Homo sapiens: one gene and its partner. The protein of the gene in region 2 purifies or fractionates together with the protein of the main gene of each other region. This does not show direct contact. Each region holds a gene or a part of one and is shown on either strand. Other genes may lie near its edges. The genes, in order: RNASEH2A and NOX5.

Region 1 (2,601 bases), on a different chromosome or scaffold from region 2:
GCTGGGACTACAGGTGCGCACCACCACACCTAATTTTTGTATTTTTTGTAGAGATGGGGTCTTGTCATATTGCCCAGGCTGGTTGTGAATTCCTGAGTTCACATGATCTACCTGCCTCTGTCTCTTAAAATGCTAGGATTACGGGCATGAGCCACCTGGCCCAGCCTGTCATTAAATATTATTATTATTATTATTATTATTATTTTGAGATGGAATTTTGCTCATTTCCCAGGCTGGAGTGCAATTATGCGATCTCGGCTCACTGCAACCTCCACCTCCCAGGTTTAAGTAATTCTCCTGCCTCAGCCTCCCGAGTTGCTGGGATTACGGGCGTGTGCCACCACGTCCAGCTAATTTTGTATTTTTAGTAGAGATGGGGTTTCACCACGTTGGTCAGGCTGGTCTAGAACTCCTGACCTCAAAGGATCCACCTGCCTCAGCCTCCCAAAGTCCTGGGATTACAGGTGTGAGCCACCACGCCTGGCTAACATTATTTTTTTTTTTGACACAAGATCTCATCTTGTCACCAAGGCTGGAGTGCAGTGGCATAATCATAGCTCACTGCAGCCTCCAACTCCTGGGCTCAAGCAACCCACCCACCTTAGCCTCCTCCTCCAGAGTAGCTGGGACTACAGGTGGGCACCACTATAACCGGCTAATTTTTTAAATTTTTTATAGAGATGGGGGTCTCGCTATGTTGCCCAGGCTGGTCTTGAACTCGAGGACTCAAGCGGTTCTCCTACCTCAGCTTCCCAAAGTGCTGGGATTACAGGCATGAGCCACCACGCCTGGTCCCCTTCCCCTTAACAAAGGGACAAATGCCCACCTTGGGTCTCAGTCCATCACTGGGGCTCCAGAAAGACAGCAAAGTGGGAAGCGGGGAAGACAGCAGCAATCCTATGGCCTGGAATTCAGCTCTATCACTCACTGGCTGTGTGGCCATAAACAAATGGCACCACTGTCTAACACTTGGCCTCTTTCACTGTGGAGTAGGGTGACCAGAGCAATTTAGAAAACCTCCAGCCAGGCACAGTAGTTCACACCTGTAATCCTAGCTATTTGGGAGTCCAAGGCAGGAGGATCACTTAAGCCCAGGAATTCAAGACCAGGCTGGGCAACATAGGGAGACCCCATCTCTTTAAAAAAAGAAGAAAAAAAGGGCCAGGGGTGGTGGCTCATGGCTGTAATCCCAGCACTTTGAAAGACCAAGGTGGGAGGACTGCTTGACTCCAGGAATTTGAGACCAGCCTGGGCAACATGACAAGACCCCATCTCTATAAAAACAAAAAATAGGCTGGGCACGGTGGCTCATGCCTGTAATCCCAGCACTTTGGGAGGCTGAGCCAGGCAGATCACCTGAGGTCAGGAGTTCAAGACCAGCCTGACCAACATGGAGAAAACTAGTCTCTACTAAAAACACAAAATTAGCTGGGTGTGGTGGCACATGCCTGTAATCCCAGCTACTCGCGAGGCTGAGGCAGGAGAATCGCTTGAAGCCAGGAGGTGGAGGTTGCGGTGAGCCGAGATCGCACCATTACACTCCAGCCTGGGCAAAAAGAGCGAAACTCCGTCTCAAAAAATAAACAAAAATAACAAATAAAAACAAAAAATAAGCAAAATAAAATGATAAATGACAGAAAGGAAAAAAAGAAAACCTCAGAAGTGTGCTCAGCCCTGGCCATTTCAACATTAGTACCATGGTCACGTGTCTGCTCACCATTGGGGTAGCCTGAGCCATAATCAGTATCCAAGTCCTGCAGTTTCTCCACGAACTGCCATTTCTTCACGGCCTGGTCCCGGGCCACCTGTGGGCAAAACAGGCACCTGGAATCTCCCTCCTTCCCTTTGGTGGCCATGCCTGGCCCCTATATAGTGGGATGGTGGAAGCCAGCCATGGCTAGTAGGGTACTGACCTTGGCACAGATGCTGGCAGCACTAACCACCGGGTAGAGGGCATCTGCTTTGGCCTTGACCGTCACCTCAATCCCGGGAAAACTTTGCTGCAGCCGCGCCTGGTATGTCTCTGGCATCCCTACGGTGTCCACGAATACCTGCCACAGCAACAGACACATATTAATTGAACAAACAACTGTACCAATGCTCTAGCCTCACAGCCCTGGCACGTTCTTCCTGCTACCCAGAATCCTCTTCTCCAGCACGTCCCCAGGATGGATCAATCAGGGATTTCAACTCGAACATCTCCTCCTAGACCAGGCAAAGTTGTTCAGGCCTGTGATCCCAGCACTTTGGGAGGCTGAGGCGGGAGGATCGCTTGATCCTGGGAGTTTGAGGCCAGGCTTGGCAACACAGTGAGACCCCATCTTTATAAAAACATAAAATAAATACAATAAAATAAAGAAAAAACTCACCTCCTGAAGAGGCTTTCTCTATCACGCTGCTTTTACTCTAACTTATTTAGCACCTACTGCATGCCACATACTGTTCTAGGAACTGAGGTGGCAGAAAACACTAGAAAAAAATTGGTAGAGTGCGTTAGCACAAGCCTGTAATCCCAACACTTTAGGAAGCCGAAGTGGGAGGATCGCTTGAGGGCAGGTGGTTGAGACCAACCTGGGCAACATATGGAGACCCTGTTTCTAC
Region 2 (3,823 bases):
TTCTATCGGAGTCAAATAGGGCAAAGAATCGCTCTGCAAAGAAGGACTGTGGGCGAGAAGGGTGGAAGACAGCACAACTGTGGCCGCAGGGCCTGGGCTTTGAATTTGTTCACTGTCTCCCTGTGTCTGGGGTGGTGGTGGGGGGGTGCACCACAGAGTGGCGGTATTCAGGCAGAACTCAGGTGCCTGAACACCCATCGTGATCTGCTCTAATGGAAGACCTGTTCCGATCCCTGCAGTAAGGATGGGCTTGGTTTGGACTTCAGGCCCCCTTCAGGCACTGGACTTTGTAATTTGCATGGGCTCTCTGTCCCCTACATACAATCACCCCCATCAGCCTTTAAATCCCAGCCTCTGGGTGGCCCCTTAACCAACATGGGAAAGGGTCAGACAGAGGGTCCTCCTGCAGGCTCCTTCCAGCCCTGTCTCACCCCACTTGGGGTGAGCGCAAGGGATGAGTGAATCTGGGAAGGACTTATAGATTCCACTGGAAGATCTGAGTCCTTTCTTTTGCTTGTTCTTAAGGCTGCCTACATTTTATACTTAAGGCTTGTTCTTAATCACCAGTTCACTCATTCATTCACTGAGCAGTCTTGTACTGTGTAGCCTCTGCCTGCCAGGCCTGGTGTTAGACCCTGGGAGCACAGAAATTAAGAAGACAGGCTTGGATGATGGGTGTCCCAAAGATGCTGTGTCCTGGGATGCTCCCCTCAAGGCAGGGGGAGGACCCTGTGGAGCTCTAGTGTCTGACTTAATAAAACTATGAGGGGTTCACAAGTATGAGGTATAGGCCGAAGTCCGCTGTGGACTGACAAAACTGCCACCTTGCCTTGGCTTTCTTCTTCATCCCCAGGATCCCTGGGTAGTACCTTTATCACTCTCTACCATCCCGAATGCTCTTTGTCTTAAGATGTTTTACACCCTCCCATTTGGATGGGATTGTATCATTAGGGAGAATGGGATTTTTTCCTTCCCCATATTTGCTGTGAAAGGAGGCGTGGCGTTAGAGTTCTTAGTAGTATCCCCAGGACCAGCAGGGGAGGGTCCTTCTGATTCAAGCAGGGCATTCAGATGCTCATCGGCTAGTCCCTGTCAAGGACCAGGCCACTATTCAATGCCAGTCCCAAGGACAGCTAGGAGAGGCTGGCATTTCAGACTCAGTCCTCCCTTCCGTGCTGATGTCTCCTCTGTGTGTCAGGGCATGCAGGCTGTGTGGGGTGGGCAGGGTAGCTATGGAGTCTGGAGGACTGGGAACAGTGTGCCACAGCAGACAGGACTTTAATAGGTATAGACCATTGACAAGCTTATCTTGAGAGGAAGCTTAAGTCAGAGCATCAGCTCTGCCCATGAGCCTAGTGGAAATTGTGAGGTTAATCATATTGCTTAAGATTTGACAAGCTACTGACTTCCAACTTCATGTGTTGAAGACCCAGGAGGCCATGACTATTAAGAGGAATGGGAGGGTGCCATAAACATCCCGCCAGCCCGCTACAAGGTGGAGACCTCAGGAACCCCAGGGAGTTCCCTTTCCCTCCCTGTAAGGGCTATGCCCTGAGAACCAGGCCACATAACGATAAATGCAGGGCTTCCACCTTGGCCCAACACTTGCCTCTTTCACATGCAGAGCTGCTTTGAATTCTTGCAGGCTGATCTCCCCATCTTCTCCTGCAATGGTCTTAAACTGCTGAGTCACCCACCGGAGCCACCTGGCATCCTCCTCGGCACTCATGGTGCTGGGAGGCAAAGGAAACAGGTTTATGGGCTTGGGGTGGCCAAAGCCTTATGAGGTCTCATGGTGGTCCCAGGGCCTCTGCCTTGCTCTAACTAGGGCCCTGAGCCTCCCTGAGTTGAATCGGGTCAATCAGTTCTGGCTGTGGATTGGAGCTTCCCACAGCCGTTTCTCCTCCTCCCTATGCCTCAGTCTCTTCCTCTTATCCTGAGTTGGCTGGCCCAGGCTTGCTTCTCTTTAGGTTCTGAAATGACAGGGCCCGAGTGAGGTGGACCCACACTGTGGGGATCAGGTCAGAGAGTGGCATGCTGCGACTGCATTAATTAACATCATGACAATGACTTTCCATCTTGCCTTTACACAGATCTTTACTGCTTTCCAAATATTTCCCACCACCACTACTTCCTTTGGTCTCTCTGACAGCCTGGTGGGCCAGGACATTTTGCAGAGAAGAAATAGGCTCAGAGCAATTAGGTAACTTAGCTAAATGTATTCAGCAAGTTAGAGACAGAGTTCAAATTCAAGTCCAGTGTTTTTTTCCATTCTGCCCCAAAGCCTCCACCCTCTGCTTAAATGCTTGTGATACAAGATGGATCAAGCCAGGATTCAGCCCTCAGGTCTTAACTCTTCAGGCCCAGGTTGTCTTCTATGATGTCACCAGGGTATTGGCTGTCTAAAACCCTCACAGATGGGCTGTCTGTACTATGATCTAAACAGAGGTGAGTGATGAAATTAGGACACTTCCCTAGCATTAGGACCCAGGAAACCAAAATTGAGGCAGTGAGTGAGGAGTTACAGATTCTTGTTGCTGTAAATGACTCCCTGGGAGAATGGCCTTGTCTATAGCTCATGAGTGTAACATAACCCTAAATGACTTAGCTACAGTAATCCTCATTCTTTGTGGATTTTGTATTTGCAAACCTGCCTACTTCCTAAAATTGATGTGTAACCCCTGAATCAGTACTCACAGCCCATCCGTAGTCATCTGTGGACATGCACAGAGCAGTGGAAACTGAGTCACCCAATGGCTTGCTCCCCACTGAGGCTGAGCAAGGCGACGATGCCTGCCTTCTTGTTTCAGCTCTCAGACAGTGAGTGTCCTTTTCATGATCTATCTAGTACTACATTTTTCACATTTTTGTGCTTTTTGTTGGTGTTTTCACTGTTTAAAACGGCTCCCAACCATAATGTTGCGGTGCTCTCTAGCATTTCTAAGCGAGCAAAGGCTGTACTGTGCAGTATGGAGGAAATACGTGTTAGGAAAGCTTCATTCAGGAACAAGTGACAGTGCTGTTGGCCATGAGTTCAATGTCAACGAATCAACAATACATATTTTAAAGGTGTCTTTAAATAGAAACACACATAAAACAAGGCAACTTATTGATCGTTTGACAAAAATATTGTGCCCTGAGGCTCACATGAGCCTAACTCTATATTTCCTTCTAAGAACAATGGTTCTGAATTCGCTAATTCAGCGTTTGCAGTGACTTTATAGAACATAAATGAGAATTGATTTTATTTTTAAAGACTAAATAAATATTAAAAATAAATGTAATAGTTTTCACATAAGCAACTAGACAAAGAATGAAATACATATCACACACATGTAAGTACATACTACTAAATATAAAGTCAGAAATTAAGGTATTAGAAAACCAAAAAAAGTCAAAATGATACATTTATTTCAATTATGGAAATGGTTTTACAGATGTATGCATATAATACTTCTCCCTTATCTGTGGGGGGATACTTTTTAAGCCCCTTAGTGGATGCCTGAAACTGCAAATAGTAGCAAACCCTATATAGACTATGTGTTTCCTATATAATACATACTTATGATAAAGTTTAATTTGTAAATTAGCTACAGTAAGAAATTAACAATAACTAGTAATAAAATAGAACAATTATAACAATATATAACAATATACTGTAATACAAGTTAAGTAAATGTGGTCTCTCTGAAAATATGTGGTTTTACTGTACTAACCCTTCTTCTTCTTGAGATCTGTGGATCTGATAACCGAGACAGCGACTAAGTGACTGAGGGATGGGCAGCGTGTATAGTGTGGATTCACTGAACCAAGGTGGGACAGA

What was found.
Region 1: the proteins of NOX5 (region 2) and RNASEH2A purify together in Homo sapiens (affinity purification with mass spectrometry, with the first as the bait; one large-scale study listed by BioGRID). This does not show direct contact.

Annotation. Positions count from the first base shown.
Region 1 is NC_000019.10:12,809,521-12,812,121, reverse strand, and holds part of RNASEH2A (ribonuclease H2 subunit A), read right to left. Parts: intron 2,052-2,601; coding exon 1,914-2,051; intron 1,806-1,913; coding exon 1,718-1,805; intron 1-1,717. UniProt on the Homo sapiens protein: Catalytic subunit of RNase HII, an endonuclease that specifically degrades the RNA of RNA:DNA hybrids. Participates in DNA replication, possibly by mediating the removal of lagging-strand Okazaki fragment RNA primers during DNA replication.
Region 2 is NC_000015.10:69,024,438-69,028,260, reverse strand, and holds part of NOX5 (NADPH oxidase 5), read right to left. Parts: intron 1,734-3,823; coding exon 1,610-1,733; intron 47-1,609; coding exon 1-46. Other genes in the region: SPESP1-NOX5 readthrough, read right to left, coding at 1-46, 1,610-1,733. UniProt on the Homo sapiens protein: Calcium-dependent NADPH oxidase that catalyzes the generation of superoxide from molecular oxygen utilizing NADPH as an electron donor. May play a role in cell growth and apoptosis.